3 linked regions of the Homo sapiens genome follow. The protein of the gene in region 1 interacts with the protein of each later gene in a biochemical or structural test. Each region holds a gene or a part of one and is shown in the gene's direction. Other genes may lie near its edges.

Region 1 (7,024 bases):
AAAAATAAAAATGTTATCTTTTTGAATATTTTCCTATTGTTTGTCTTAATAGTGTTTGTTGCTGAGTCATATCAGTTTCATCATGCTGCCTATTAGGCCATAAGAATTTCCTTTTGGTTAAATAACTCAGGTTAGTGAAGTACTTCTTAAATTTTACTTAAAATTGACATGGCTTTAAAATACTGGTTTTACAAGATATATTTAAATAATATATAGATGGTAGCAGTGTTATGTTTTGGAATTAGAAATTTTACATTGCTTATAGCATCTCTAGATTTTTGACTTGGGACCAAATGAATTGGTTGGTTAGAGTCTGCTTGCCTTAGAGAAGAGTACAGTATGGTACTTAAAAACACCTCTAACTTTTGTTTTTCTAACACCCAGATTCTGGAGACTTTGGTTGCAGCTAGACCTTAATAAACCAGTACAATTACATTACATACTATAAAATATTTAAAAACCCCAAGATCATCAGAAGTCATAAAATTTAGGGTTAGTGGCAAGATCTGAGAGATCATCTAGATAGTTAGAGCTCTTCATTTTCCTTATGTGGAAACTGGTTTAGTGAGATTAGTTACAGCTTGCTTATAGCCTCATAGGTAGTTTCAATGGCAGAATTAGAAAGGAGAATCTAGGTCTAACTTCTCATACTGTGTTCCTTATATTTCACTACACAGGTGTAAGTGCAGCTACTGAAAATAGAATTTAAATATTTCTATTTAAAATACAGAATGATTCAGAGTAACTTTAAAATTTTTATACCTAGATTTTGATTTTTCCCTCTTAAAGAGCTCTACAACATCAAAGGCAGTCAAACAGAGACATCATTGGGTTTATAAATCTCGGCTCAGGTTATCTGTGAATCTTGGGTAGTTTATATCTCTCATCAACTCTCCTTTAGATTCTACCTTTTTGCCCATTCAAATATATCTTCTACCTCTGATATATGAAATAAAGGGAGGCATTTTGAACTTACATGACTTTTTTTTTTTCTTTTGGAGAAAAAGAAAATACAAGGAACATGGTAGCGGGGAAATGGATTTCTCCATTTATAGCATGATTTTTGCAAACGCAGTTAAATGCAAGTTCTCTGAGGTTCAGGGACTACCTTTGTAATATCCATCTTAAGAGGAGTGCCTGTCTAAATAGCATGTCAAGTCATATACTACTCTGGAATTTAATTAATTGATTGGTCAATTTTTTTTCTTTAAAAATATATTTTTGTGTGTGCGTGTGAACCAGGCACCCCCTCTGCCCCCAAATAGGTTTACAGTGACTCTTGATTATTTTTTAAATAACCTTGTTATTTTGGCATAATTTTAGATTTACAGAAAAGTTGGCAAAGTACTATAGACAGTTCTTGTTTTCCTCTCACCCATTTTCCCCTGTTGTTAGCATCTTATGTTACCATAGTATATTTGTCAAAACTAAGAAACTGACATTGGTATATTACTGTGAACTCGTCTCCAGACTATTTGGATTTCACCAGTTCTTCTGTTATCTTCTTTCTGTTCCAGGTGCCACATGCCTCCCCTGGTCTGTGACAGTTTCTTGGGCTTTCCTTGTTTTTTATGAGCTTGAGTCTTGAGTAAGATTGTCCAGGTATCCTGTAGACTGTCCCCCAATTTGGATTTGTCCGGTGCTTTTCACGTGATTAGACTGGGGTTTTGGGTTTTAAGTGCCCGTTTTGTCACATCGTATCAGGGATTGCACGTATGTGATAACCACATGACATCACTGGTGGTGTTTGGTTTAAGATAGTGTTTGTCAGGTTTCTCCACTGTCAACAGCGCTACTATTTTTCCGTTCCCATACACTGTTCATGGAAAACAGCTCACTAAGTCCAGCCTACCCTCAAGGGTGAAGGACAGGGCAGGACTTAAGCGCCACATTCTGGAGGGAAATCTACATTTATTAAATGGCATTCTTCTGTAACGATTTATCCATTCCCCGTTTGTTTGGTTTGTTTGTTTGTTTGTTTGTGTCCGTATGGACCATGGGCATTTACTTTATACTTTGGGTTGTAAGCTAATACTGCAGTATTTACTTTTTTGGCTTAAATTGTTTCATATTTGGCCACTGGGAGTTCTGTCAGCTTGGCCACTATGTCCCATTGTTTTTTGAGCACTTTGTTGCTTTCTGGTACTATAACATGCTCTAGGCTCATCTTGCATTTTCCCTGCCCCAGTCCTAGAATTATCCAGTCTCCAAGGAGCCCTGGTTCTTGTTATTGGAGAATGGTATATAGAAATTAAGATCTGGGCACTGAGTGTGCTCACTGGTACTGGGTATCACTGCTTCTTGGCCCTCTCACCGATAAAAGTGGGTAACATTTTATGTATGCTAACCCATGTGTATGCACATATTTATAACTTTTTCTGTCTAATCATTTGTGTTAAGATAAACATGAATTCATACAGATGTCTCTGACTTGAATCTAGTAGGACAGCATTCAATTTTGGCTTCCTTTCTGACATACCTGTATCTTTTCTCTCTCAGAGTGAGAAACCTGGTTTTTATCATCCATTTACTTATCTGTTCAGCCCCAGTATATGTTAAAGCAGTTTCAAAATTTTGAACCTGTACTGCTGTGAAAAGTAAATTTACCAGCAAGAGTACAGTTTTTATGTATTTGGTAGCTCCTTTTTATCTCTAGCCTTCTAGATTTAGTTTTTGCACATTAGATGCCCTTTCTCTCCTGCTCTGTTGCAGGTACTTGTGATTCTGAGGGCCTAAGCTATCCATCAGTCTTTTTGAGTTGTCACTTTCTGAGGCTACTGAGATGAATTCTGTCATGGAGAAACACAGAAGAATAATTACCCAGCGAGCCACAAGGTTTCTAAGATGAACTTTCTGGTGTAGGATGTGTGATTTTTAATTTTTTTATGCCAAATATACAGCTTCTATATTCACAGTAATACTTTACAAATCACCCTATATTGTGTGTCCTTTGTGTGCTAACTGAACATGAGATAGCCCAGCAATCCTAAAGGGACACTAGGTAGTGCCTTCCACATAGTAACCAGAGTCCCTTTGCCTTGGTTTCTGAATATTCCTCAGCAGTCTGCTAAAACGTACTTTTACCCACTCTTAGGTTTATTTTGTCAGTCAGTGTTTATATCTTTTTTTTTTTTTTTTTGAGACAGAGTCTCGCTCTGTTGCCCAGGTTGGAGTGCAATGGCGTGATCTTGGCTCACTGCAACCTCTGCCTCCGGGGTTCAAGCGATTGTCCTGCCTCAGCCTCCCAAGTAGCTGGGATTACAGGCGCCCACCACTACAACCTGCTAATTTTTTTTGTATTTTTAGTAGAGACGGGGTTTCGCCATGTTAGTCAGGCTGGTCTCAAACTCCTGACCTCAGGTGATCCACCTGCCCCGGCCTCCCAAAGTGTTGGGATTACAGGCGTAAGCCACCACACCCACCCAGTGTTCTTATCTTTTTAAGTTCTTTATTTAATTTATACTTTTGGAAGTAAAGGCTTTGTAAGGGAGCCAGACTTGACTTTTACCAAAACCACATCTTAACATTTTTTTGGCTAAGTACAGAAAAATTATATGTATATTTACAGAACTTACATTTGTGGAATATGTCTTTTATTCTTTTATCAGCCAAAACTATCCTGAGGTCTGTGTTTTGTATTTGAGGAATTTTGGGTTTTAATTTCTTAAAATCTCTTGAATTCTAGTGAGTTAGAGATTCCATAGGGTTGTACTGTTTTCCAGTCTAGGAAATGATTTAAAATAGCTGCCTGGTGCTAATGTTGGAATGTTCCTAGAAAGTAAATATGTTTCCTTGCATCTTAAGTCTAGAGCATGTTTGGAAAGGATTCAAGAATTAGAGGACTTGCTTGCTAAAGAAAAAGACAACTCTCGTCGCATGCTGACAGACAAAGAGAGAGAGATGGCGGAAATAAGGGATCAAATGCAGCAACAGCTGAATGACTATGAACAGCTTCTTGATGTAAAGTTAGCCCTGGACATGGAAATCAGTGCTTACAGGAAACTCTTAGAAGGCGAAGAAGAGAGGTAAGGAACTTAAGGGTCACCCTACCTTATGGTCCACTTTTTGCCTCTCACCCTTTTTATTGAAATAAAAATAAATAGCATTTTAAAAAGAACTTTATTTTCTTGGTCATTTCTTTGAACACCTAGGTATAGAAGTAGTAATAGATCATATTTCTACCTCATCGCAGAAAATGTTGCTCAAGTACTCTTAGTTTATTTATTATTATTACTTTAAATGCTGAACTGCATCAGGATGGATTAGTTCCTTTGAGATTTTAAGTGTTTTGGTGATTTAATATATTGTAAAATGCCAAACTGGCTGAAAGAGACTTTACATATTATTTATTTATTTATTTATTTATTTATTTATTTATTTATTTATTTTTGAGACAGAGTCTCAGCCTGTTGCCCAGGCTAGAGTGCAGTGGTGTGATTCTCGGCTCACTGCAACCTTCACCTCCTGGTTTCAAGCGATTTGCCTACCTCAGCCTCCTGAGTAACTGGGATTACAGGCGTGTGTCACCACACCCGGCTAATTTTGTTTTTAGTAGAGAAGAGGTTTCACCATGTTGGCCAGGCTGGTCTCAAACTCCTGACTGCAAGTGACCCACCCGCCTCAGCCTCCCAAAGTGCTAGGATTACAGGTGTGAGCCACCACGCCCGGCTGGCTTTATATATATTTTAAATCTGGTCAATGTATAAATATTTTTGACACCTGTTCTCAGAAAAGAGTTCCAAAAGGGCCAGGTGCATTGCCTCATGCCTGTAATCCCGGCACTTTGGGAGGCCAAGGCAGGCGGATCACATGAGGTCAGGAGTTCAAGACCAGCCTGGTCAACATGGTGAAACTCCGTCTCTAATGAAAATACAAAAATTAGCTGGGCATGGTGGCAGGCACCTGTAATCCCAGCTACTTGGGAGGCTGAGACAGAATTGCTTGAACCTGGGAGGTGGAGTTTGCAGTGAGCCAAGATTGTGCCATTGCACTCCAGCCTGGGTGACAAGAGTGAAACTCTGTCTCACAAAAAAAAGAAAAAGAAAAAAAAAGTTCCAAAAGGAAAGTGGCTGATTTAGGATAAAAAGCCAGATAATTTTAATATTATATCCGTTGTGATCATAAGAAAGTACAGGTACGAAAAGAGAAAAAAGTACACCAACTATAACAGTGGCTGTGGTGGGTGGTGGTAGATCAGATGACTTTCTACCCATTTACCAGACTTCTTGCATTATGGTTATATTACTTCCATCCCTAGAGAAAACATTCAGATTGTTATTTTTTAAAAAAGAAAATTGACGATGGGCACCTTATGAAGAAGTTTACATTAGTTAAGGTAAACTTTGGCTTTGGCTAACAGATTGTAAGTAATATTTTGCTTTAGAAATGCATGGGTGGGATATTCTTCTTCTTATTATTATTATTTTGAGACAGGTTTTCACTCTGTCACCCAGGCTAGAGTGCAGTGGTGTGATCTCAGCTCACTGCAGCCTCTGCCTCCCGGGTTCAAGCCATTCTCCTGCCTCAGCCTCCTGAGTAGCTAGTATTACAGGCGCCCACCACCACGCCTGGCTAATTTTTGTATTTTTAGTAGAGACGGGGTTTCACCATGTTGGTCAGGCTGATCTTGAACTCCTGACCTCAAGCAATCCACCTGCCTTGGCCTCCCAAAGTGCTGTTGGGTTACAGACATGAGCCTCTGTGCCCAGCCCTTGTTTTTTTGTTTTTTTTTTTTTTAAGGCGAGAAGGGCATATGTGTTTTAAAAATGAATTGTTTTATTTTTCCCATATAGGTTGAAGCTGTCTCCAAGCCCTTCTTCCCGTGTGACAGTATCCCGAGCATCCTCAAGTCGTAGTGTACGTACAACTAGAGGAAAGCGGAAGAGGGTTGATGTGGAAGAATCAGAGGCGAGTAGTAGTGTTAGCATCTCTCATTCCGCCTCAGCCACTGGAAATGTTTGCATCGAAGAAATTGATGTTGATGGGAAATTTATCCGCTTGAAGAACACTTCTGAACAGGTAATAAAATAGACCCTTTTTTTTCTAGCAAGGCTTTGTGGATTGCTAGATTCTCTTGCAATTGTCATAGCTCCTTAGTTTTTGTTTGGATTCATTACGTCTTCATGGAATAAGGGTTTATGTCCTTTTTACTTAAATTCATAAAATAAAATAAAAATTAAAATAGGAGGAGGAAGAGTTAGGTACCCTTAGTAGTTTAAAGATTTGCTTCATTAACCCTTCTTTAGAGGGCCAGGGCTTTTTTGAAAAGCATGTTCCTTTTATCACAGTGGTTCTGAGGATGAGTTATTATTATTCTCTGCCCTAGCCAAATTTGTGAAGAAGTTGGAGCAATTGGATGAAAATGGTGGATATTCTTTCGGTCATTAACTTAATAAAAAGCTTACTGAAAGAAGGAGATAAGAGCCTGGACTCAGATATTAAGGGAATATTTTTCCCTGCAAATAAATGAATGAACAAATGCTAATACTTTACATGAAAAATAGCATGAAGCCTTATTTTGAAATATGTTTAAAAGTAAACATGAAGTATTCATAGCAGAGATTTCTGAAATTTAGGGCTGGGGCTTTCGGGAGCTCTGTAGTGTGGGCCTTCCCTAGCTCTGCATCAAGGAGCTGGAGGCCATGATGGGTTGTGAGATGATACTAGAGGAAGGCATGGTCTGGGAGCGTGCAGGCGGCAGTGGGATGGATGTCACATCTTGAAACATATGTTCAGGGCCTGCTAAAAGTAGTTTTGAAAATTAGTCTTTTCTCACCACAGTTATTAAAACTATCTTGCATGTGGATGAATATGTAATTTGGATGAGTGAAGGAGCACTAATGAGCACCAACAGTTTTAATGCTAAAGAGAATAGGCTCTAAGGTCTCTTTGTAGCCTTTTTTTTTTTTTTGAGTCTTGCTCTGTTGCCCAGGTCGGAGTGCAGTGGCATGATCTTGGCTCCTCCACCTCTTGGGTTCAAGAGATTCTCCTGCCTCAGCCTCCTGAGTAGCTGGGATTACAGGTG
Region 2 (7,024 bases), on another chromosome or scaffold:
CATTGTTCAAGGGTCAACCGCACAAAGCAATAATCACTGTCTTCTGTGGTTCAGGTTTACCTCCTAAGCATGGCTGTCGTCTTCTGTGTTTGTGTGTGTACACACAATGCACAGGCGTAGCTGTGCGTGTGAGAGCATGGCATCACAGTAACTACGTGTACCTGCTTTTTCCACCAGTGCTTATATCACCATGCCCCTAACTTGGTGATTTTTGATGGCGGCCACAGCTGTGCGCAGTTTCATCCTATGGCTACTTGGTAGTTTATTTCACCTGTCACATCTTAACAATTTTGGTTTCTTTCCCACACAGATCCTGAAATTCCTGTTCAGGTCACTCAGGATATTGAGCCTCATTTGGGAGCCTTGTTCACCCAAATGTTAGAGGTTGGGACGACAGAGGACTTGAGGCTGGTGATGCAGTGTATTCTCCAGGGACTGGATGTCAGTAACATGTGGAAAGCAGATGTGCAGGTGGGTGCCTTCTCCCTCCTTGTGTGGCAGGCTCAGAAACCACGTCGGCTCAAATGGGAAAACTGATTTGAGATGTGGTGTCACCCTTAAAACTAAACAAGTTCTAACTGGTAGAGACTCTAGGCAAAGGGGGAGGCTGTGAGAGGGAGCCCTGGCCTGTGGGACAGCCCAGGCTGCGGCATAGGGAGGCCTTAGTTTTCAAACGGGAAGTTTTTCAAATAACAAATGTGTTGTCTTATTACGTTAAATACTAAGTGTTACACATTCACAAAACTGATCCATAAAAAAGTTAAATTCTGCTCATTCTTTGCTGAAGACCTCTCACACCATACTTCTTGAAACATGTGGCCTGATTGGGCCATACTGCCTTCATGCCAGCATTTGAGAAGCACCTAGGTTAGCCTACCCCCTTCAGTTCTGACAGAAGTCGCTAATACAGCCTGCATGGTGTTGCATTTGCTGAGTGCCTTTGCACAGAGCTCACATGCTGGGATTTGTTTCTCTGAATGCCTGTGGGCACTGGACTGGTCAGACATCTCTTACGCAAGGAAGAAGGCCACAGGCCACAGAGCCAATGGTTGGTGGGGCAGAGAGTCCAGCCAAGGTCTCTGGTCTAGGCATATTCTGCCTCATGAATGGCTTATTGACTCCTGGTCATATACAGCACACTGGTATTGGGTACTGATTTGGGCAGGAGAGGAAACAAACCTAAATTTCTGTTTGGACCAGTTGGTCAGGAGACTTCCCGGAGGAAGTGAAACTCCAGCTGTGCACTGAAGAATGCAGGGGACTTGATTGGGGAGCAGAGGTGAGGGGAAGGGAGGCGTGCACCGTGCAGGCAGCGTGTTGGGCTGCCAGGAGCAGGGGATGTGCAAGAGTGAGAAGATGGACAGGGAGAAGTGGTGCCAGGGGGGCAGGCCCTGGTGGGGAGATAGCCTGTAGGTGGGCAGGAGAGTGGGAGTGGAGATGGGGCTTTGGGGTGTGCCTAGTCAGAGGGAGCAGGGAAGGGAAGAGAGTGAAAGGCAGAAGCCAGGACTTTGGCTAGGGTTGTGGGGTGGGCTGCACAGCATTCGGGGAGAAAGGGACGGTGTGAGGCTGAAATAGGAACTCACTGACAATGTGAAATGCCTGGCACTGGGTCTGTTTGTTCATATAGGCACCCCGTAAAGGTAGGGCTCTGCCCACATCTCATGGTTTAAAACCTTATTTTTCAAAGGGGAAGTTTTTCAAATTACAAATGTGTGGTCTTATTATGTAAAATACTAAGTATTACATATTCACAATACTGATATGTATAAAAGTTAAATTCTGGCCGGGTGCGGTGGCTCATGCCTGTAATCCCAGCACTTTGGGAGGCCAAGGTGGGTGGATTATATGAGGTCAGGAGTTCGAAACCACCTGGCCAACATAGTGAAACCCCGTCCCTGCTAAAAATACAAAAATTAGCTGGGCCTGGTGGTGGGTGGCTGTAATCCCAGCCACCTGGGAGGCTGAGGCAGGAGAATCGCTTGAGCCCAGGAGGTGGAGGTTGCAGTGAGCAGAGATCATGCCATTGCACTCCAAGCCTGGGTGACAGAGCGAGACTCGGTCTCGAAAAAAAAAAAAAAGTTAAATTCTGCTCACTCTGTGCTTAAGACCTCTCCCACCATATATTTTGAAACATGTGACCCGATTGGGTCATATTGCCCTCATGTCAGCATGTAGCACCCGTGACCACAGCACCTAATCCGATTGTTTTCACATTTTCCTCCAGCCCCTCCTATCTGTAAGCGTGCATCGTTGCTCAGTGAAGTAACAGCCAGTGTCCTCTGCGTGGACAGAGCCTTGACAAGACGGGCTCTCTGTAATTAGGTCACAGTGTGTGACCCTTTTGCAATTCACTGTCCTGGCCGATTTACGTGCTTGATTTAGTGAAATGCTGCTGAAAGACCCTGACTTTGCCCCAGCTCTGCTCATCTTCTTCACTTCCTTCCTGTCTGCATGCTGATGTGAAGGGTGTCCCTCCCAGGACTTAACCCCAAGCAGGCCTTGTCCACCTCCCCTGACACCAGGGCTCTCAATCCACTCCAACGCCACAGCCCCAGAGAGCAGTCTTCTTCCCCAGGCGGAGTTCTTAAGGGAGAACACGCTATCTCTGCCGCTAAGTTTTTTCTCTCTTGCCCCAGGCTGTTGTGTCAGCTGTTACACTGCTGAGGCTGCTACTGAACTGCCCACTCAGTGGAGAGAAAGCAAGTCTGTTGTGGCGTGCGTGTCCCCAGATAGTCACAGCTTTAACAGTGAGTACCCTCTGGAGATGTGTCCTCTAGCTCCTCCCCTCCCTCTTCCTGTAAAGACAGAAGTCAGCCTTTTGGGGTCTGCTGCCCTGTAGCTTTATGCAGAACGTGTGTGTGGGCTACTTCCAAAGGGCGGTGGTGAGCAGGATGCCGAGCTTGTGTGTCCTGCCTGAGCACATTGGTATCAACGGTTGGAGCAGTGGAAGGGAAGTGCTAACAAGGGACATTTAGTAGCACTGGGAAGCATCAGACAGGCAGTAAGAAGAGGGATGTAGTGATAAAGGGAGGCTATCGTGGAGGCCTGCTTAATTTTTAAAATTTTATGTTTTATTATTTTTTTAGAAATGGAGTCTCACTGTGTGGTCCAGGCTAAGGTGAAGTGGCTATTTGCAGTTGCAAATGTAGTGTTCTGCAGCCTCAAACTCCTGGCCTCAAGTGATCCTTCTGCCTTAGCCTCCCAAGTCACCAGGATTATAGGTGCATGCCACTGCAGCCAGCTTGTAGATGCCTATTTAATCAGATGATAAAAGAAGGAATTCTGGGGCTTTCTTTGTCCCCACAAAATGTTGTGGTTAGTTTAATGCACTCATTTATTTGTAGGAGTTGTATGTGTGTGTGTGTTTAAGGCCTATGATACAGTGAGAATAAAATGCTTTACAGGATGGGATAGTAATGTTGCAGATAGGAGTTTATTTTGTTACAGTCTTACTCAAATGTTAAAATTTGTGTCCAGTTGTTGCTAGGCTGTTTGTTTCACTAGAACAGTCTGGTTCAGATTGGGACTGCCTCCTGCCCTCTAAAAACCCTGACCTGGGTGTTCTTACACTTAGGTGCGAAGGAGCAGTATCTATTTTACCATCATACTCTGCCCTAATTCTAGCTGTTGCTACCTGAGACAATTGCCCTGGGTTAGCATGTTCCTGGGGCAAAAGGGTCTAAAAAACAGACTTAATATTCTCTCTTGTTTCCAATTTGGCTGCTTTGTCATTTTCCTGAGCATCCGTGTTGGTGGATGGCAGGGGTCATCGTCACCGAGCATGTGTGGTGAGCATCAGGAGAGGCACGTGACCCATGCTGACGGGCAGGGACAGTGTTGATGATGCGTGTGGTAGGCCCTCACTGATAAGAACACTGGGCTAGAATCCACTTACGTCCACCCAGAGGGTGTAGCAGGGGTCCGCACAGCCAGAATACCCAGCAGAACAGTGAGCATTGTGAGAGACAGGACCCAAAAGGCCTCACCAGGGCTGCTGTGTATCTGAGAAGGAGGGTCACAGGTGAGCTGTCCCAGGTTACTTAGGTAAGACTTTGAGCTGTCCTTCCTCTTGGGTCTGTTCTCTTTATATTCTAGATCATGAATTGAATATCTTTCACTAGAGCTGATCTGTAAGAAGTTTAGCAAATAGTATTTAACGGCCCACGGACCACATCAATTCATTTTGGAGCACAGACATTTCTACCTCAGTCACTCAGAGCTGCAGTGTTTGTGTTATTTCCTTGGGGAATTACTTTCATTTTTCCTTTATTTTATTTTGCCCTTTAGCTCTTAAACCGAGAAGCTTCTCAGGAGCAGCCTGTGTCCCTCACAGTGGTCGGGCCTGTCTTAGATGTCCTGGCTGCACTGCTGCGGCAGGGGGAGGAGGCCATCGGCAACCCCCACCACGTCAGCCTGGCCTTCAGCATCCTTCTCACTGTCCCTTTGGACCATCTGAAGCCGCTGGAGTATGGAAGCGTCTTCCCGAGGCTGCACAACGTGCTCTTCTCAATCCTGCAGTGTCACCCTAAGGTGAGAAGGAGGGTGAGAGTGGCAGGCAGCTTTTCCTCTGCGAGCAGGGTACTTGAAGTCTGTAGAAAAGTGGCAGCAAAACTTTACTGTTGCAGGATAATAATACAAATAACGATTTGCTAGGCAAACTTTCTGTTCTAGTAAATTTCAGAGCCAGGTGGTTTCTCAAGCATAAAAATGCTCGACCTTCATACTGGGTTTGTGAGCGAGTTTTTCTTCATTGGATCTGGTGCTATGAATAGTGTTTGTATACTACAGGTTGAACACTTCTAATCCAAAATGCTCCAAAGCTCGAAACTTTTAGAGTGCTGACATCATGCTACCAGTGGAAAATCCCACTCCTGACCTCATGTGACTGGTCGCAGTCAAAACACAGTCAAAACTTTGTTTCATGCAAAAAATTATTTAAAATTATTGCATAAAGTTACCTTCAGCTATGTGTATAAACTATATAAAGTGAAACATAAATGAACTTTTAAATTATATTTAGATGGGTCCCATCTCCAAGATATCTCATTGTATATATGCAAATATTCCGAAATCTGAAATCTGAAACACTTCTGGTCCCAAAGCTTTAGGATAAGGCATACACAATCTATACTATTTAAGGAAGCTCATTAAAAATTACTCTGTTTTTGCTCACCACGTCTTTAAATAAGCCACTCGCATAGATCCCTTGCTGGGCTTATAATTCAAATGGATATAGGGAATGAAGCATCCTGAGTTCCAGTTTTATAGTATGCTCCTTTTTAAGTTAAACTGAAACTAGGGATAAATGTCCCACAGAAAAAATTACAGTTCAGTTAACATTTATTGAACATTTGATGTGTTCCACCCCTATAGCAAGCCTGTGAAGGAGGCAGTAATCCCATTTTATTGATGAGTAAACTGAGGCTCAGTGCCGCCAAATAATTTGACCAGTGTCACTTAGCTGAGTCTAAACCTTAGACTCAAGACTTGTTATCTTTGACCAGTGTTCTTTTCATGGTGCCACCACTGTATGTGTGGCTGACTATGTATGTAGGAACTCATAGATACGACGGTTAATGCATCGCTTAATGACAGAGACTTGTTCTGAGAAATGTGTCGTTAGGCATTTTTGTTGTGCAAACACCATAGATCGTATAATACTTTCACAAACCCAGATGGTACAGAGTACTGCACACCTAGGCTATGGGGTATAGCCTGTTGCTTCTGGGCTAGAAACCTACAAACCTGTACAACATGTGACTAATGAATCCTGTAGACAGTTGTAACACAATGGTAAGTATTTGTGCATTTAAACAGAGAAAAGTTCCATTAAAAATACAATCTTATAATCTTATAGGACCACTGTTGTTTATACAGTATGCCTTTGACCAGAGTATTGTTTTGTAGTGCATGGCTGTGTGTCATATATTCATGCACATTCAGATACTTTTAAGTGTTTTGATGTCCTAAGGATAGAGACCTGCCAGCAATGCAGTTTTTAAGAAAAATATTCTCTGGTAAGCTAAACACTCATGACATTGGTTCTAACTCTAAAGCCTTCCCCTGTTAACAATTGCCTTTGACCCTATTTATCTTGTCAGCATCTTTGTTTTAAAATCTCTCTGCTGATGTTAGATTTGTATGTAACTGTACAATATAAATGCAATGCACATAAATTACAAACTGAAATTACAGGTGCAGGATTTCATGAAGTTGATGAAAGTAATACTAGAAAGCAGCTTGATTCTTCTGCAAAACCATTAGCAAATGACCATTTAGTGGAATTAGATCATTTAACGAATGGAGAAAATTGACAAGGATAATGACATGGTATTACAGTAAAGAATGATGTGAATTAATCATAGCTCACTCTCATCTGTTGGGGTTGTGTAGGGAATCTGATGGATGATCACAGCATCAACAGTGTGCATGGTAGGCCCACACTGATGTAAACACGCAGCCAGAATCCTCTTAGGTGCATCTAAAGGGTATGGTAAGAAGTCAGCACAGCCAGCATACCCAGCAGAATGATCAGCAGCTAGTGCTGTTCCAAGCACTTTACATGGCTTAGCTTGTTCAATCCTCATGACAACCTATCATCCTCATTTTGCAGATGAGGAAACTGAGGTGCACACATACAAAGAAAAGCTAGATGATTTGTTCAAGATCATAAGGAGCCAGAGTGTGAACCCAGATAGTTCCAAAAGGATTTGTGTGCTTTTCATCAGTATGATAGCAAAGGATTAAGAGAGGGTCCTTGGGGAACTGGGTGAAACGCTGGAATACTTTTGCAAAAACGACTTCTTTCTGAATATGCTGCAAAAAGTCAGTAATTTGACATGACGAATGTGGTATTATGCTATCAAAAATTTTGTTGGACAGATTATGCCAAAGAGAATAATCCCGACACTTGACTTACTCTCTGTTCACTCTCACACGTGATGCAGCACTGTCCAGCAGTGGTCAGCAGTGGTGGGTGTGTGCTGTGTCTCCATCGTCCAGTATGGTCACCACTGGCCACAGC
Region 3 (7,024 bases), on another chromosome or scaffold:
GGTTGCTGGGCTGCTTCCGGGCAGTGCTGAGTGTGGAGCTGGACCCTGTGGTGAGCTGGGGTCTGGGCCAGGCGGGGTGGGGGGCTTCCACAGCCTCCTGCCCCTCACACTTCTCCCTCCTCCCCCTCCACACAGGAGGGGCGGCTGTTGGACAAGGAGAGCTCCAAGTGGCGGTTGCGGGGCCAGCCCACCGTCCTCCTCACACTGGCCCACATCTTCCATCACTTTGCACCGCTTCTGGTGAGCGGCATTGGGAGGGGCATGGGAGGGGAGGAGACAGGCCATGCTAGACACGCCCGTGGTAGATGTGCCCTCACTGAGGGCTGCAGTGCTGAGGTCCCACAGCATCACCTGGCGAGGGCCCCATGTGACCAGGGCCCTCAGACCTCAGTCAGTCCCCTAGGGAAACAGGGACATTGCCAACCAAGGGCATCAGGGGATGTCCTGGAAAGAAGACTGAAGGATAATAACATCCCAGGCCAAGGAAACTGCGTGTGCCAAGCCTTAGAGGAGCCGTGGGGCAATGGCCTTCTTGTCCCTCAGTCAGACCCCGGAAGGGGTCATCTATGTTTGGTGTTGCTCGAGTGGCTCAAGGCTCTGTGCCTGAGGCTTGTGCCTTGGCCATGTGCCAGGGCAGGGGTGCCTTGACCAGAGTGGAAGGCCACCACCTCACCAGTGCCTGGCCTTGGTGCAGCGCAAGGTGTATCTGGTGGAGGCTGTGCTCATGAGCTTCTTGCTGGGCATCGTGGAGAAGGGCACACCCACACAGGCACAGTCCGTGGTGCACCAGGTCCTGGACCTCTTGTGGCTCTTCATGGAGGTGAGGCTCCTGACCTCAGGCCTCAGGCCTGGCTGTCAGTCTTCACTGGGGTCGGGAAGATACGGGGAGAATCTTGGAAAAGGCCCCAGTCATGGCTGCCTTGGCATCTCTTCCCCCAGGACTACGAGGTACAAGATTGCCTCAAGCAGTTGATGATGTCTCTGCTTCGGCTGTACCGATTCTCACCCATTGTCCCAGACCTGGGCCTACAGGTGGGAGCCCCTACCCCTGCCCTGAGCCCCCTGGGACTCGCCTGTCCACTCTGAACGCCCCCTCTCCACAGATCCATTACCTGCGGCTCACTATCGCCATCCTGAGGCATGAGAAGTCCCGCAAGTTTCTGCTTAGCAATGTCCTGTATCCTTTCCTTGCTGCCTGGCAGGCCAGACATGGGGTGCCCTCTGGACTCAGCAGAGGCCAGGAAGGGGAGTGTCATCAGGCCAGGGGTCCCCTGGGAGCATCAGGAGGACCAGAGCTGCCCAACGTGGCATTTTCTCTACAGAGCAAGGACGAGAGAGCAAAGGACTGAGCCTGGCCAGCCAGCCTAGCCAGGGGGTTCTGAATGACTGCAGACTCGGGCTACGCAGAGGTGTGGGAGGGGCCACAGGGCCTGCCCTCTTCGGCCACAGCCCAGCACTTTTGTTCATGTTCCACAGTGGGGATTCCTGCAAGATCTTTAAGGAGGCAGCTCTTCCTGCTTCCCAGAATTGTTGGGAACTGCATGAGTGAGTGAGAGCATAGCTTTGAGCCCCTGGCTGGGAAGCCTCAGCTTGTAGCCGTTTTCTTGGTCTGGGGTCTTCCAGCCTCCAGGAGGCAGACACAAAGCTGGGAGACACAGAGGTCAGAGTTGGGGCCTGAGAAAAGGCCACCAGTCCCTCTCTCCAGCTTGTCCCACAGTCATCTGTTCCTGTGACAAGCCCTTATCGTGCACCTGCTGGGTACTGGAGCTGGTGGGCTTAACCACCACAGCTTTTTGTCAGGGAGCATGCCCTGGGGGTCAGACACATAGCAGCAACATGCCCCTGTGGTGGTGGGAGAGCTGTGGTAGGCACATCCAGGGATGGGCTCCTGGGGAAGGACTCTTGAGGGTGTGCAGAGTGCCCTTTGGCAAGCAGAGCCCTGCCTTGACACCCGCCAGCTTCGACGTGCTCCGCTCCGTCGTCTTCTTTTACATCAAGAGCCCCCTGCGTGTGGAGGAGGCCGGCCTGCAGGAGCTCATTCCCACCACCTGGTGGCCCCACTGCTCCAGTAGGGAGGTGAGTGCACCCCAAGTGGGATGGGCAGAGGTCATGGCAAGGCCCCTGGCCTGGGCATCTGGCCACTGGGCATCTAGCATGAGGCCTTTTCACTGGCCCTGGTCCCTGAAGCCCTGGAGATGGAGTGTGGGTGTTCTGAGTGAAGGAGGCCTGGCTAGGTCCCAGGTGACCCTGCTGTATTCCACCTGCTACCCCTGCCTAGGGCAAAGAGAGCACGGAGATGAAGGAGGAGACCGCAGAGGAGCGGCTGCGGCGGCGAGCCTACGAACGGGGCTGTCAGCGGCTCAGGAAGCGCATCGAAGGTCAGCCCGCCTTGGGCACGGGGTAGGGTGGGAGGTGTGTGTGTGCACATGAGGGTGCTTGGAGGTGCCCATGTCTAGGTGGGACTTGGGGAACCCTGGTGGTGGAGCCCTGGCCCAAACCTGCCCCCCATCTCCTGGAGCCTGAGGGCCATGTTCCTCACCTGACCTCCAGTGGTGGAAGAACTACAGGTCCAGATCCTGAAGCTGCTGCTGGACAATAAAGATGACAATGGGGTGAGTGACTCCCAGGAGCCCTGGGTGGGGCCCTGTGGGGAGGGATGCTGCACTGGGCCTTAAGACCCAGAGGGTGGGAACTGGGTTTGGTTCCCATGGCAGGGGCTGGGGGAAGGTGCAGCACTGAGCCAGCCCAGTCTGGGCCTGCATTCTCAGCTCAGCACAGCCTCACTTTTCCCTCTCTCAAAGGGTGAAGCTTCTAGGTATATCTTCCTGACCAAGTTTCGCAAGTTTCTGCAGGAGAACGCCAGTGGCCGGGGGGTAGGTGTCCTCCAGGCCAGCCCACTGTGGATCCCCGGCTGCACTACACATGCCATGCCCTCAGCACCTGGCACTTCTCGGACTGCCTCATCCCTGCCTAGCCCCAAGCTTTTCTCTGCTGCTTTTCCCTCCCTGCTTAACCCTCGACCCTCAGGCAGGGCCTTGGATGAGGAATGGGCAAGGCACTGGACTGGCACCAATGCATGTTTCATGCCTGGTGTCCACAGAACATGCCCATGCTCTGCCCCCCTGAGTACATGGTCTGCTTCTTACACCGGCTGATCTCTGCCCTGCGCTACTATTGGGATGAATACAAGGCTTCCAATCCTCATGCTTCCTTCAGTGAGGGTGAGTGGCACCGGGGTCCCAGGTCAGTGAGGCTGGACAGAGCCAGGCGTAGGGCAGCCCCTAATGTTAGTGCAGAGTGCTGAGCTGAGGCTGTGGGCTGTGGGGAGTTGTCCCCGGCATCCTGCCTGGTTGAGTCCTACCCAGCCACAGGCGGCTTCTCCACTGGGGCAGCAGGAGCCCTGCACCGCAGGCCTGCCGATCCTGTGTTTGCTCTGATTGTCCCACGGGCTCCTACCATTGTGGGCTCTTTTCTTCCGTCCTTGCCCCCCCATTTCTCTGTGCGTCCTTTATAGGGCTGCCTTGGGTGGGTGCTGGGGGGCCCTGTGTTTGAGTCCCCAAGGGTCAGTGGGAGCCTTACCTGCCCTGGATTGGGGGATATCCCACAGGACTGGGGCTGGGCCTCTCTGCTTCTCCTGAGTGAACGGCTGCCATGAGTACCCCCATCACCCCAAGTTATGCAGCTGCTGGCTCTGACCTGAAATGGCAGGGGTGGAGAAGAGGTAGGGGAGGTCTGTTTCTTGGTCCAGGAGACAGTTTCTCTGTCTGCCTGGATGGGTGAGTGGCCAAAGCCAGAATTCCCAGGCTGTGCTAGGCCAGATTGGAGGGGAGGGCTGTGGGGAGGGTCTTCCTACTGGGCCGTGACCACTGGCCTAGCCTCCTCAATTCCTCGCAGAGGCCTACATCCCGCCCCAGGTCTTCTATAATGGCAAGGTGGACTACTTTGACCTGCAGCGCCTGGGGGGCCTCCTCTCGCACCTGCGGAAGACCCTCAAAGGTGTGTACAGGCCTGTGGGCCGGGAGCAGTTCTGGGGCCAGGTGGGGGACTGTCCCTGAGCCTGCTCTGCTGTGGATGCTGAGCCATCCTATGGCCACCAGAGGGTGCCCAAGTCTTTCCACCCACTCAGGCAGGGAGACACTGATCTGCCTGCCCTACATCTGGGCAGCTTCTCTTTCCCGCCAGCACCCACGCCATAGGGGTCGGGCGTGCCTGGCAGGGGACCAGGGATCTTGGTGAGGTGTGGATGGGGCGTGCAGGTGCTGCCGGAGCTGCCTTCAGGGATGAGCACAAGCTGCCCCGGTGCAGGGCTGAGGGCACAGCGAGAGCAAGGCCCTGAGCCGGGCACAAGGGTGGGTCTGTGCTGTCAGAACCTCTCTCTGGCTGCCGCAGTGTATACGCCGGAGTGCAGGGGCTGAGAGACAGGGAGCCCAGGTGTCCCCACACAGGAGATAAGGGCCTGCCCAGGTAGGTAGGGGAGGGCACAGGTGGAGGAGAGGAGTCAGGATGACCCCAGGCTTCCTGCCAGAGGTTGTGTGGATGGGGTGCCATCAGGGAGAGGGGCTGCAGGAGGTGGTGGAGATGAGAAATTCTGTTTGGACACAGCGCGTTTAGCGGGGAGCAAGGCCTGGGCGGGGGGCAGCGAAGGCGGGGTCAGTTGTCAGCACGGTGGTGGGGATGAGCCTGGGATGAGGCTTGGCTCCCACTGGGAGTGCCCAGAATGAAGCAGCCCTGGCATCTCCTTTTGTTTATGGAGTAGTCAGAGAGTGGGGGAGGCCCTGGAGAGCAGGAAGTCCTGGGAAACAAAGCCAGGGACCAGCAGGAAGGGCATGATGGGCTTACATCTATGTAGAATAAAGAAAGTCAATTTGAAAATAAATGAAAAAGAAGGGTGTGATGGGGAAGGCCTCCTGTTACTGAGTGGCAGCTAGACGGGGCCCTTGAGATGCAGAGTGAAGGCTGGGTGGAGGAGGCGGAGGGGCGAGGGGCAGATACGGTGCTAAACCGGGCTCTGCAAGGCCTCCTGCCCAGTGTGCTGGGCTCTCTCACCGTCCTGGGCACTTCCACTGTGGCCCCTTGCGCCACCACTGGCCTGAGAACCCTCCTGCTCTTCCTCCCAGATGACCTTGCTTCCAAAGCCAACATTGTGATCGACCCACTGGAGCTCCAGTCAACCGCCATGGATGACCTAGATGAGGATGAGGAGCCAGCCCCAGCTATGGCCCAGGTGCCGCAGTGGGGGCAGGCGGTGGGATTTGTGTTGGGCTTATCCTGTATCTTATGGGCAGGGGTCTCATCCAGGGCCACTTCCCGCTCCATGCAGGCAAAGGGTTTCTCACTGGGCTGGTGCCTTGCTGTGGGTGGAGGCATGGACCCTCCCTCACAATTCTGCAGCCCCGTGGGCCAAGGGAACCCTGAGCCAGCCCTGGTCCTGGCCGCCTTTCTTCACTGCAGCGCCCCATGCAGGCCCTGGCTGTTGGGGGGCCACTGCCCCTGCCCCGGCCCGGCTGGCTCAGTTCTCCAACTTTGGGCCGAGCCAACCGCTTCCTCAGCACAGCGGCTGTGAGCCTCATGACCCCACGGCGGCCTCTGAGCACCTCGGAGAAAGTGAAGGTCCGCACGCTGAGCGTGGAGCAGAGGACCCGTGAGGACAGTAGGTGCTTGGTGGGGTCAGGCAGGTCCCCGAAGGACCCTTCCACAGTGTACAGTCCCCGATCCGGGCAAAGCCAAAATACACCCCATGCCCTCCCAGCCCTGTGGCCTGGCAGCATCCCAGGAGTGCAGGAAGCACACTCCGAGGGCAGGAGATCAATGCCGCAGAAATAGGTCCTGGCACCGCAGGCCTTGCCCTGCACTCCACCCCTACCCCCATGCCCCCATGGGCTCCCCGCGGGTCCCTCCTTGGGCACAGGAATGGGAGAGATGATTTCCTCTCCTGCTGTGAGGCAGGCTCAGGAGAGCCGGGATGGCCCTACCCTTGACCCTTCCCTCCCCAACTCCCCAGTTGAAGGCAGCCACTGGAATGAGGGCTTGCTGCTGGGGCGGCCCCCCGAGGAGCCTGAGCAGCCCCTCACCGAGAACTCGCTGCTGGAAGTCCTGGATGGGGCGGTCATGATGTACAACCTCAGCGTACACCAGCAGCTGGGCAAGGTCGTGCACTCTTGGACCCCGCATTGGGTGGCGGGTGTTGTGCGTGTTTGGTTGTGTGTGTATTCCTGTGTGCACATGGGCCCGCAGGGCTGCCTGTTCAAGACCGTGCATGGGAGCACATGCCTCAGCGAGGCTGGTTTCTGCTCCTGCTGCCTCAGTCTGACCTGCTGACTGTTGTGGGAATGGGACCGCCCTGGGCCTAAGGTTGGGACCTTGGCAGGGCTGGGGTCCAGACTGGGTCTGAAGAAGCCTGGATGAAGTGCCCAAGGGGCACTCTGGACATGTGGTCCCATGCTGTGTAGATGGTGGGTGTCTCCGATGATGTCAATGAATACGCTATGGCTCTGAGGGACACAGAGGACAAGCTCCGCCGGTGCCCCAAGAGGGTAAGGCCCACATAGTCTTGGTGAGGGGCAGCTTGCTTACTCGTACAGGTAACCACAGATGAAGTCTGGTTCTGGGGGCTGCCCTGGCAGTTCTCATCCCCACTCTAGCCCTGGCCATAGCACGCCAGTGAGAGTGGGGCTGGCAGCAAGGCCTGGCACCCATCACCAGTGTGGCCTGTGCCTAGGTGCCCCCCACCCCCTGGGCCCAATAAGTGCTGAAGCACACCCACTCTCCTCATCAATTATTCATTGACCCTGAGTGCTTCCTCGGCCACTTGCAGAGTCAGCAGGAAGCAGGGCCTGGCTCCACTGCACCCTCCGGAGCCCTCTGCTGTAGCTGCCCTAGCCCAGGAAGGTGGGGCCCAGTGTGTCCAGGCTGAGCTTCCCTGACAGCCCCCACCCACCCCGACCTGTCAGCAGATCCCTGGGTCTGGCAGCTGGGGGAGCAGCGGTTCTGGCATCAGGTCCCTGGGTGCTCTGGCCAGCGGCTC

The links. The genes of interacting proteins can lie anywhere in the genome.
Region 2: the proteins of LMNB1 (region 1) and URB2 form a complex in vitro, tested with the Homo sapiens proteins (one study listed by BioGRID).
Region 3: of the proteins of LMNB1 (region 1) and RNF123, one has a biochemical effect on the other in vitro, tested with the Homo sapiens proteins (one study listed by BioGRID).

What each region holds. Positions count from the first base shown.
Region 1 is NC_000005.10:126,815,118-126,822,141, forward strand, and holds part of LMNB1 (lamin-B1), read left to right. Parts: intron 1-52; exon of another isoform or gene 53-130; intron 131-1,517; exon of another isoform or gene 1,518-3,804; coding exon 3,805-4,025; intron 4,026-5,792; coding exon 5,793-6,018; intron 6,019-7,024. UniProt on the Homo sapiens protein: Lamins are intermediate filament proteins that assemble into a filamentous meshwork, and which constitute the major components of the nuclear lamina, a fibrous layer on the nucleoplasmic side of the inner nuclear membrane.
Region 2 is NC_000001.11:229,643,223-229,650,246, forward strand, and holds part of URB2 (unhealthy ribosome biogenesis protein 2 homolog), read left to right. Parts: intron 1-310; coding exon 311-471; intron 472-2,636; coding exon 2,637-2,747; intron 2,748-4,287; coding exon 4,288-4,530; intron 4,531-7,024. UniProt on the Homo sapiens protein: Essential for hematopietic stem cell development through the regulation of p53/TP53 pathway.
Region 3 is NC_000003.12:49,699,533-49,706,556, forward strand, and holds part of RNF123 (E3 ubiquitin-protein ligase RNF123), read left to right. Parts: coding exon 1-50; intron 51-135; coding exon 136-240; intron 241-694; coding exon 695-820; intron 821-939; coding exon 940-1,032; intron 1,033-1,103; coding exon 1,104-1,177; intron 1,178-1,958; coding exon 1,959-2,076; intron 2,077-2,278; coding exon 2,279-2,378; intron 2,379-2,550; coding exon 2,551-2,612; intron 2,613-2,801; coding exon 2,802-2,873; intron 2,874-3,100; coding exon 3,101-3,221; intron 3,222-3,894; coding exon 3,895-3,996; intron 3,997-5,117; coding exon 5,118-5,224; intron 5,225-5,451; coding exon 5,452-5,650; exon of another isoform or gene 5,651-5,654; intron 5,655-6,001; coding exon 6,002-6,147; intron 6,148-6,449; coding exon 6,450-6,533; intron 6,534-7,024. UniProt on the Homo sapiens protein: Catalytic subunit of the KPC complex that acts as E3 ubiquitin-protein ligase. Promotes the ubiquitination and proteasome-mediated degradation of CDKN1B which is the cyclin-dependent kinase inhibitor at the G0-G1 transition of the cell cycle.